Linked DNA regions of Homo sapiens. The protein of the gene in region 1 purifies or fractionates together with the protein of each later gene. This does not show direct contact. Each region holds a gene or a part of one and is shown in the gene's direction. Other genes may lie near its edges.

Region 1 (3,749 bases):
GAAACTGACTAGTCTCAGAATCTCGGGTAGGGCATCAGAACGTGAGAAGGAACCAAGGTTGGTGGCTAAAAGGGACCCTAGAATGCGCCAGAGAGGAGGTGGCAGGGCCTTTAGTCTGGAAAGTCCCCTTCCCTTCATGTCCATATGCTGGGCTACAGCGCCCTCTGCTGGCCTCTCCTGGTAATGCCTAGGAATCTGGGTTGGTAAATAGGGACCTCCTTGGCTTTCTTCCACAACTCCAGACCTCAAGGGAATGCAAATGGGGAAGCTCTTCCTCTGTTCTCAGCCAGTTTTTCTCACACGTCTCATCTCCAGTCCCTTGATGCCCACTCCCTTCAGAATAAAGGAGGTCAAGCCACTTACTATGGCTTATGAGGCCCTGCATGGCCTAGCACCTGGTAACATCGCTGGCGCCCTCTCTTTCTGCTCCCCCTTTGAATATCAAATCAGTGTTTATTTTGTTCTGAGGAGCCATAAGTCCTTTTTGGAACCCACAAATGATGCCATGAACCACTGCATTGGAGAATACAGAGGTACATGGAATTTTGCATAAAAATTCATGAGGTTCTCAAAACCTCCACAGCCCAATCATGGCTTTCAAGTTAGAGCTCCTTTCCTATGCCCTGACCGTAGTGAAGTGCTTGCAGCAACCAGAACCGTCCGTACGTGCCATCCTCCTCAAGACTCTTCCCTACCTTCCTCTTAACCCAGCTCCTACTCGTTCTTCAGGTCTTAGCTTGAGGGTACCCTCCCAGAAAGAAGGCTTCCTTGACCCTCCAGCCTGGGGTGGACAGCTCCCTCAGCCCTCTGGATCCATCAAAGCCCTGGCCACTGAGTGACATGTCTGTCTACTCTGCTGGTAACACCTAAATAGAGCCCCACCCATCCCATAGGGAAATAAGGACCAGAGTTGTCTTGTTTCACACCTGTAGATTTCCTCCAGGTCCTGGGAACACAAAATGGGAAGTTCTATCTCACTATCCATCTCATGCCAGCCAGAGACAGGGTATGATGACGGAAGTAAGCCAGGCTGGTGGCTCACGCGCGTAATCCCAGCATTTTGAGAGGCTGAAGCGGGAGGATTGCTTGAGGCCAGGAGTTGGGGACTAGCCTGGGCAACAAAGTGGGACCCCTGGCTCTACAAAAAAATTTTAAAAATTAGCCGGGCGCGGTTGTGCGCGCCTGTAGTCCCAAGTACTCCAAAGGCTGAGGCAGGAGGATCACTTGAGCACAGGAATGTGAGGTTACTTGAACTGTGATCGCGCCACTGCATTCGTCTAGGCGACAAAGCGAGACCCTGTCTCAAAAAAAAAAAAAAAAAAAAGAGTCAAGGCTTAGTAATATTCCTGAATTCCTGAAGGAGTTAAGAAAGGAAAAGGACAAGCGGGGGTCTAAACGAGAGCACGAACCCTCAGCGTATGACGGCTCCAGGCTCCGGGGGAAAGTCCTTTAGCCATCCATCCCAAAATTAAGCACGCTGGGAGCTGGAGTCACAGCAGTGATAAAACGAACAATGATTCTGGTTCCTACTGACTGACAGGAGAGGTTTAAGGGTCTCTCACTCTCCGGGGAGCCCCTTTCCTTCCTGGCTGCGGAGGGCGGAGCCCGAGAGAGGCACGCATGCGCAATGCAACGTCTGCCTTAGGCCCGGAACTTCGGTGCCTGGGCGCAGCGGTGCACCCGGACCCGGAACATTCTCAGGCGAAAGTGTCTCTTGCGTGCGTGGGCCGGAGGTTAGTGTGCGGGGCCCGCCGGGCGGTTGAAAAGTCCGAGAGAATCAGGATGGAGGCCGTGGCGACGGCGACGGCGGCGAAGGAACCCGATAAGGGTGAGATCTTGGTCACGCGCAGGCGGCGGGTGGGTGCGGTTGCGGTGTCTCTAGGAAATGATTCCCCCAGGAACGCGAAGTAGGACTCGTTTTAGGGGGACACCCACCCCCCTCAGCTTTACCGGTCCTCTTCACTACTTTGCCCAGATTATTCCCTCCCTTGTCGCGGGCTGACCTTCTTTTCCTCCATTCCTTCCCCCCGAAATTAACCTCTTCCCAGTTCCAGACCAATCCTTTCCATGTCCCTAATTCATTTCCTTACCAGGCTAACTCTCAAATTAACAGAAACCTCTCTACCCCGGCCTAATTCCTGCATTGCCTCAGACCAGCCCTTCTCAAATTACCTCCTTCCCTGTACCAAGCTGAGCCTTCCCTTGCTCTCTAGACGAATCCTCCTACCTTTCCAGGCTAAACTTCTACCTGCCTCATGCAAACTTATCCCAATCTAACGATTCCTTCATTTCATTGTAACTCCCGTTTCCCCCAAAGTCCGAAATCCAGCCAGGCTCCTTTCAAAGTCCTTACTCAATTTCTGTGCTTTCCCACAACCTTCAAAGTAATCCGACGTCGGGTGAGGTGTGATTGGAAGCGTGGCTCCAACACCACTGGCCAAGAATTGGTAATTGTGGAAGCCAGATGGAGATGATTGGTATATGGAGGTAGGGGGAGAATTGTCGTTGTACTTTCTACTTTTGTGTATGTTTGAAATTTTCTAAAAATAAAAAATTTAACCTAAAAAAAGTCTTAAGGCCGGGTGCAGTGGCTCCCGCTTGTAATCCCAACACTTTGGGAGGCCAAGGCAGGAGAGTTGCTTGAGCCCAAGAGTTTGAGACCAGCCTGGGCAAGAGAGAGAAACCTGATCTCTATAAACATTTAAAAATTAGCCAGGCCTGGTGGCTAGGGAGTAGCTAGGACAAGCTACTCAGGAGACTAAGGTGGGAGTGTCACTCGAATCCTTTGAGATTGCAGTGACCTAAGATTATTACACCACTGCACTCCAGCCTCTGCAGCAGAGTGAGACTTGAGCCCAGGAGTTTGAGACCAGCACTGGCAACATAGCCAGACCCCATCTCTACAAAAAATTTAAAAATTAAGGCCGGGCCCGGTGGCTTACACCTGTAATCGCAGCACTTTGGAAGGCGGAGGCAGGAAGATCACCTCAGGTCAGGAGTTGGAGACCAGCCTAGCCAACATAGCGAAACCCCATCTCTACTAAAAATACAAATATTAGCCAGGCGTCGTGGTATGTGCCTGTAATCCCAGCTACTCGGGAGGCTGAGGCACCAACTGGAATCACTTGAACCCGGGAGGCGGAGGTTGCAGTGAGCAGAGATCGCACCACTGTACTCCAGTCTGGGTAACAGAGCAAAACTCTGTCTCAAAAAAAAAAAAATTAGCCAGGTTTGATGGTGCATTCCTGTGGTCCCGGCTACTCAGGAGTCTGAGGCGGGAGGATCACTTGAGCCCAGGAGGTCAAAGCTGCAGTGAGCTGTGTTTGCACTATTGCATTGCAGTCTGAGCAACAGAGCAAGACCCTGTTTCAAAAAAAAGAAAAAAAATTTGTCTCTTGGCCCCATCTGTCTCCTTCAGAGAGTCATGTATACTTGGTCTTCATTTCCTCGTCTCCTGCTCACGACTGTCTGACTTTTCTCCTAAGAAACTGCTCTGATTAGGGTCTGCACTGACTTCCCCCATGTTGTTCAATTCAGTCCCCCCATTCAGGTTTTTGTTTGTTTGTTTGTTTTTTGAGAGAGTCTCACTCTGTTGCCCAGGCTGGAGTGCAGTGGCATGATCTCAGCTCACTGCAACCTCCACCTCCCAGGTTCAAGTGATTCCCGTGCCTCAGCCTCCCAAGTAGCTGGGATCACAGGTGCCCGCCACTATGCCTGTCTAATTTTGTATATTTTTAGTAGAGATGGGG
Region 2 (3,649 bases), on another chromosome or scaffold:
GCACCACCATGCCTGGATAATTTTGTATTTTTAGTAGAGATAGGGTTTCTCCATGTTGGTCAGGCTGGTCTTGAACTCCTGACCTCAGGTAATCTGCCTGTCTCGGCCTCCCAAAGTGCTGGGATTACAGGCATGAGCCACAGCACCCGGCCATTTAGCTCTTTTTATATGTTGAACATTAAGATAAAAAGATGAGTTTCTATTATAACTGGGGAGGCAGGTACTTAAAAAAAAAAAGAAACTAATAATTTATTTTCCTTTGACCTATTTGTACATGAAAAAAACTAGTTGTAGGCTGGGCATGGTGGCTCATGCCTGTAATCCCAGCACTTTGGGAGGCCGAGGCAGGTGGATAACGAGGTCAGGAGATCGAGATCATCCTGGCTAACACGGTGAAACCCCATCTCTACTAAAAAAAAAATACAAAAAATTAGTCGGGTGTGGTGGCTTGCGCCTGTAGTCCCAGCTACTCAGGAGGCTGAGGCAGGAGAATGGTGTCAACCAGGGAGGCGGAGCTTGCAGTGAGCCAAGATCACGCCACTGCACTCCAGCCTGGGCGACAGAGCGAGACTCCGTCTCAAGAAAAAAAAAACAAAAAACTAGTTGTAATTTATTGCCCATTGAGGACCAAGTAGAAATATAAGTAATGCCTGGCCGAGGTTGGGGATGAGGCAAATGGAGCAAAGCTATCTAATCAAAGTTTCTGCAGTGATTGAAATGTGCTGTATCTGTGCTATCCAATATGGTAGCTAGTAGCCACACTTGAACTGTAAGTAGTAAGACTGAGAAAATGAAGTTTTAAATTTGAGTTAACTTAAATTTAAATAGCCATGTGTACCTAGTGGCTACTGTTATCAGACAGCAAAGATCTAGATGATGCGATACTTTCCCACGGGCTTGGAATCCTGGATTGTAAGAGTGGGGCTCTTGTATTTGTGTTTTGACCAAGTTTGATAATTCTAAGTCTGAATACTGCTCTCAGAAATAATTTGAGTCTTTCATGCTTTCTTCTTCAGTTAGGAGCTCTTTTACCACACTGTTGCCCTTTTTTTTGAGACAGTCTGGCTGTGTTACCCAGGCTGGAATGCAGTGGTGTGATCTTGGCTCACTGCAGCCTCCGCCTCCCAGCTTCAAGCAATTCTCCTGTCTCAGCCTTCTGAGTAGCTGGGACTACAGGTGCACACCACCTCATCCAGCTAATTTTTGTGTTTTTAGTAGAGACGGTTTCACCACATTGGCCAGGCTGGTCTCGAACTCTTGGCCTAAAGTGGTCTGCCCACCTCAGTCTCCCAAAGTGCTTGGATTAGAGGCGTGAGCCTCCGCCCGCGCCCACCCCACCCTGTTGGCCTTGAGACACACTAGTCAGGCCCTTCCTTAGAGGACTGAAGTTTCTGCCGCCAGGCAGTCAGATCAGAATATTGGTTAATTTTAGGGCTGGGCATGGTGGCTCATGCCCGTAATCCCAGAGCTTTGGGAGTTCTGAGGTTAGGAGCTTGAGACCAGCCTGACCAACATAGTGAAACCCCATCTGTACTAAAAATATAAAGAATAAGCAAGGTGTCGTGGTGCATGCCTGTAATCTCAGCTACTCGGGAGGCTGAGGCATGAGAATCGCTTGAACCGGGGAGGCAAAGTTTGCAGTGAGCCGAGATCATGCTGCTGTACTCCATTCCAGCCTGGGTGACAGAGTGAGACTTAGTCTCAAAAAAAAAAAAAAAAAAAAGGAATATTGGTTAATTTTAGTTACATTCGATATCAGATGAAGGAAATGTTTAGAGGGCTCCAGATACACTCTGGGGGCAGAAACCTTAGGAGTGAGAACTAAGAACGTTGTGTCAATACAATGTATCTTCCAAATACAAATATGGAACTCTTGTTTAGGCAGGCCAACAGGAGGGAGCACCTTGCCTAGCTGAGGCTGGCTCAGAGAGTCCCAGCTTTGCTACTCTGTATCCTCACTGTCCTTCCAATCTTTACTAAGCTTAATTGCAGAGTACAGCATAGGGATGGGGAAACTGGATTGTCCCAGTTTTATCTGAACTATTGCTCAGACTAAAGGATGTTTGTTTTAAAGTGTTCCTTCTAGCTTCCCCTTTCTGAATTTTTATTGTTATGATCCTACTTATACTAGGAATTTTCTTCTCATTTCTCTTGTTTCTCAGACAACCTCATCAGCCTTGAAAGGTGCCATCCAGTTAGGCATTACCCACACTGTGGGGAGCCTGAGTACCAAACCAGAGCGTGATGTCCTCATGCAAGATTTCTACGTGGTTGAGAGTATCTTCTTTCCCAGGTACAGAGTTTAATGTTCAGGAGCATGTCCTGGAAATGTGGCCTTTTCAAATCAGCCCAGGGCAGTTTTAGGGGTTCAGGTCGGACAATTTAGACATGTGTCCATTTCTTAACCTGGTTACAATCAGGGCGATGTGGGACTAGAGAGTTCGGAGAGCAGATACTGTCCTCTAGATGCTTCCATTAGCCTCTGTCCTATGGATTGACCCGTAAAAAACAACCTAATGCATTGGATAGGAGGCAGTGTGATTTCTTCTTCTTCTTATGTCTTGCTGTCCATGCTGTGCCATTGTCTCACTAACTCATCTAAGAAGGGCTGTGATTATCTTAGGAGGAATGTATTCCCCCACTCCCCCCACCATGAGGTGACTCTGAGTGTCTTCGCAAGGTAGATTCTCTGGATGATAGGGACTGGCAAGTTATGGCTACCTCTGTTTAACCCCACAGTGAAGGGAGCAACCTGACCCCTGCTCATCACTACAATGACTTTCGTTTCAAGACCTATGCACCTGTTGCCTTCCGCTACTTCCGGGAGCTATTTGGTATCCGGCCCGATGATTACTTGGTAAGCATCTGGATATCAGGACACTGTGACTCCAGTATCAGAGGGATATTCCCAAAGGAAGGCCCCTTTTCTCCACAGTCTCGCTCTGGTTTTTATTTAGAAAAGAATTGCATCTGTAGTTGATTTTTGTGTTGGGCAAGGCCCTGATGTGTCTAAATCTCTTAGTTCTTCTCTGTTTGCCCCAGTATTCCCTCTGCAGTGAGCCGCTGATTGAACTCTGTAGCTCTGGAGCTAGTGGTTCCCTATTCTATGTGTCCAGCGACGATGAGTTCATTATTAAGACAGTCCAACATAAAGAGGCGGAATTTCTGCAGAAGCTGCTTCCAGGATACTACATGGTAAGGGAGAGAGAAGCACTGTCCACCTGTGCTGCTCACTTCTGGGCAAGGCTGGGGAGGCTGTCTTCAGCAGGGTAAAACAGTGTCAGCACTTCTATCTTAAGAGTGTAGTTCAGGCCAGGCACGGTGGCTCATGCCTGTAATCCCAGGACTTTGGGAGGCCGAGGCAAGAGGATCACAAGATCAGGAGATCAAGACCATCCTGGCCAACATGGTGAAACCTCGTCTTTACTAAAAATACAAAAAATTAGCCAGGCGTGGTAGCGGGCGCCTGTAGTCCCAGCTACTCAGGAGGCTGAGACAGGAGAATGGCGTGAATCTGGGAGGCGAAGTTTGCAGTGAGCCGAGATCCTGCCACTGCACTCCAGCCTGGGTAACAGAGCAAGACTCCGTCTCAAAAAAAAAAAAAAAAAAATGTTGTTCAGTTTTGTGCTTTTCACCCCATTTCTTTTGC
Region 3 (3,649 bases), on another chromosome or scaffold:
TGTGAAATGAGATAAAATTGAATCATACAGATTTTAAAATGGCATATATTTATACCTGCCATTGCCAGTGACCTCCACCTTGCTAAATCGAATGGTCTGTTCTCAGTCTTTATTTTATCTCAGCTTGTAAACAGCATTGGACATGGTTGATCATTCTTTTCTCCTCAGTATGCTGTCTTCACTAGTTTTCCATGGACAGCTCAATCATTTGGTTCTCTTCTTTACTGGTGACTCCTTAGTCTCATTTGCTGGTTCCTCCTCTTCATCCAGTCTCTTAGTGTTCCTGAGGTTAGTCCTCAGTCCTCTTCTATTTACCCCTATGAGCTCATCCAGTCTCATGGCTTTAAGGACTCTAAAAAGCTAGACCTCCAAAATTTATGTATCTAGCCCAGACCTCTTCCCAGACCTACAGGCTTGTATATTTAATATTCGTCTCAATGTCAGCAGTTGAATATATAACAGGTTTTTCAAACTTAGCATGTCAGGTAGATTAGTAATAAAACAACACTTTTAAGTAATGTGCATCAGTGTAGAAATAGGGTGGAGAATGACATCAGAGCCTGGTCTTTTTAACTCTGGTAAAATAGTACTGCTTCATTTGGGGGACAGACTTTATTCTCAGCTCTGGGCCTGCTATATTTGATATTCCTTTAATAGGTTGGGCTCCTGGAATAAACTTTCTCATTTTTCCTTTTCCTTTTGTTCCTTTCTTTTAGACTTTAGATTTAATGTACAAATGAATTGGAGTGGCAGGAGACAGATCATTTTTTTCTAAAAGTAAAAATTCAGTTGTTTCTTTTCCCACCTGCATTGTTCATCATGTTAATGCCAGTTCTTTTTTAGGTATCATCTTTATCAGAAAGTGAGGAGTCCCAGGACTCATCCGACAGCATAGGCTCCTCACAGAAAGCCCACGGGATCCTAGCACGGCGCCCATCTTACAGGTGAGTACTCTCTTGTATGAAGCCCTGCATGTTATGATAGTACCAAATGAGTTCAAGAGGTGCTGTGCAAAGTACACTAAAGAAGTTAGCACGCGTCAGTGTTAAGAATGAAATTGGTTGGCCCTCGCCTATAATCCCAACCCTTTCGGAGGCCGAGGTAGGATTGCTTGAGCCCAGGAGTTCAAGACCAGCCTGGGCAACATGGCAAGACCCTGTCTCTTCAAAAAATACAAACCTTAGCTGGACATAGTGGCGCACGCCTGTAGTCCCATCTACTTAGAGGCTAAGGCGGGAAGATGGCTTGAGCCCAGGAGTTTGAAGTTACAATGATCTGTGATTGTGTCACTGTGCTCCAGCCTGGGTGATAGAGCAAGATCCTGTCTCCAAGAAAAAATGAAATTGGACCTTTGGCCGGATGCAGTGGCTTATGCCTGTAATCCCAGCACTTTGGGAGGCTGAGGCGGGCAGATCACCTGAGGTTAGGAGTTTGAGACCAGCCTGGCCAACATGGTGAAACCCCGTCTCTAATAAAAATAGAAAAATTAGCCGGGTGTGGTAGTGCACACCTGTAATCCCAGCTACTTGGGAGGCTGAGGCAGGAGAATCACTTGAACCTGGGAGGCGGAGGTTGCAGTGAGCCGAGATTGTGCCACTGCACTGCAGCCTGGGCAACAGAGCAAGACTCTGTCTCAAAAAAAAAAAAAAATGTAAATTTAATCTTTATCTTACACCATTACACAAATCAACACCAAATGGATAAGAGACCTAAATGTTAAGACCTGAAACCATAAAAATCCTAGAAGAGAACATAGGCGATAAGCTCTTCGACATTGACCTTGGCAATGATTTTTTGGATATCACACCAAAAGCTTAGGCTACAAAAAAATAAATAAATGGGACTACGTCAAACTAAAAAACGTGTCTGTGTAGCAAAGGAAACAAAGCAACAAAATGAAAAGGCAACTTACGGACTGGGAAAAAATTATTTGCAAACCACTTATCTGATAAGGGGTTAATACCCGTAACTGAAGACAAAATGAGAGAACCTGAGGATACAGCTCTGAGTAGATTACCTAGAATGGAACACAGAAAGACAAAGTTAAGATAGAACACAGAATGAGAAGGTCCAGTACACAACATACATAGATAAAAGGAGAGAAGAGGGAAGGGCACTTCCAGCTTCTAGTCTCTCCAGGAGAGAAAATGATAATGACTGCAATTTCCAGGATATGAATTTCTCAGCATAAGAAAGCAAGGTCCCAAACAAGATAAATTAATAGAAACCTACATCTAGGTGTATGTTGTAAAGTAAAACTGGAGAACACCAAGGATAAACCTGAGATCTTAAAAGCTAAAAGCTTCCAAGTGAAAAGACCAATTACCTAGAAAGGAAGGACCAGTAAGCTGACAACAGATTTTTGAAGTACAGTATAAGACAATGAACTAAAATCCTTATTTTTATCTTTAAATTATTACATGTTTTTTTGAGACGGAGGTCTCACCCTGTTGCCTGGGCTGGAGTGCAGTGGTGTGATCACAGCTCACTGCAGCCTCAACCTCCTGGGGTCAGCTCCTCAGCCTCCTGAGTACCTGGGACTATAGGCATATGCCATGATGCCCACCTAATTTTTTTTAATTTTTGGTAGAGATAGAGTCCCACTATGTTGACCAGGCTGGTGTCAAACTCTTGGGCTCAAGTGATCCTCCCACCTCAGCCTCCCAAAGTGTTGCTATTACAGGCATGAGCCACTGTACTCAGGCTCCAATATTTAAATTCAAAGAGAAAGTAACTTTTGACCTGGAATTCTGTGCCTACTGAACAGTCTTTCAAAAATGACGGTGAAATAATAATCATTTTCAAACTGATTTAAGAAACTACTTAAGGAGGCTGGGTACAGTGGCTCACGCCTGTAATCCCAGCACTTTGGGAGGCCGAGGCGGGTGGATCACTTGAGGTCAGGAGTTCGAAACGAGCCTGGCCAACATGGAGAAACCCTATCTCTACTAAAAATAAAAAAATTAGGTAGGCATGGTGGCACATGCGTGTAGTCCCAGCTTGAACCCAGGGGGCGGAGGCTGCAGTGAGCTGAGATCGTGCCACTGCACTCCAGCCTGGGTGACAGAGTGAGACTCCATCTCTAAAAAAAAAGAAAAAAGAAACTACTTAAGTGTATACTTCAGGAAGAAGAAAATGAAAGGAATATAAATGTGAGAAAGTATGGTGAACAAAGACAATTCATTTCAGTTAGCATTGGCTTTTTAGAACAATAGTAATAATGATTAATTTGGGTAGTTTCATGGTTGTTGTTTTTTTTTTGAGATGGAGTCTCGCTCTGTCATCCAGGCTGGAGTGCAGTGGAGTAATCTCGGCTCACTGCAAGCTCCGCCTCCTGGGTTCATGCCATTCTCCTGCCTCAGTCTTCCGAGTAGCTGGGACTACAGGCGCCCGCCACCACACCTGGCTAATTTTTTGTATTTTTTAGTAGAGACGGGGTTTCACTGTGTTAGCCATGATGGTCTCAATCTCCTGACCTCGTGATCTGCCCACCTTGGCCTCCCAAAGTGCTGGGATTACAGGCGTGAGTCACCATGCCCAGCCTGAACCTGAGATTTCTTTATTAAGTAGGGGTCTCTCAGGAAGGCTATAACATCTGAAAAGAAACTTCTCAAAGTTAAGCTTTCTGGATTGCCACAGATTAGTATAA

Evidence for each region.
Region 2: the proteins of CCDC97 (region 1) and PIP5K1A purify together in Homo sapiens (affinity purification with mass spectrometry; 2 studies listed by BioGRID and IntAct, with this or other methods). This does not show direct contact.
Region 3: the proteins of CCDC97 (region 1) and ATF1 purify together in Homo sapiens (affinity purification with mass spectrometry; 2 studies listed by BioGRID and IntAct, with this or other methods). This does not show direct contact.

Annotation. Positions count from the first base shown.
Region 1 is NC_000019.10:41,308,529-41,312,277, forward strand, and holds the start of CCDC97 (coiled-coil domain-containing protein 97), read left to right. Parts: upstream 1-1,643; 5' UTR 1,644-1,782; coding exon 1,783-1,828; intron 1,829-1,948; exon of another isoform or gene 1,949-2,487; intron 2,488-3,749. UniProt on the Homo sapiens protein: May play a role pre-mRNA splicing through the association with the splicing factor SF3B complex which is involved in branch-site recognition.
Region 2 is NC_000001.11:151,229,509-151,233,157, forward strand, and holds part of PIP5K1A (phosphatidylinositol 4-phosphate 5-kinase type-1 alpha), read left to right. Parts: intron 1-2,162; coding exon 2,163-2,293; intron 2,294-2,739; coding exon 2,740-2,857; intron 2,858-3,042; coding exon 3,043-3,195; intron 3,196-3,649. UniProt on the Homo sapiens protein: Catalyzes the phosphorylation of phosphatidylinositol 4-phosphate (PtdIns(4)P/PI4P) to form phosphatidylinositol 4,5-bisphosphate (PtdIns(4,5)P2/PIP2), a lipid second messenger that regulates several cellular processes such as signal transduction, vesicle trafficking, actin cytoskeleton dynamics, cell adhesion, and cell motility.
Region 3 is NC_000012.12:50,795,066-50,798,714, forward strand, and holds part of ATF1 (cyclic AMP-dependent transcription factor ATF-1), read left to right. Parts: intron 1-832; exon of another isoform or gene 833-843; coding exon 844-944; intron 945-3,649.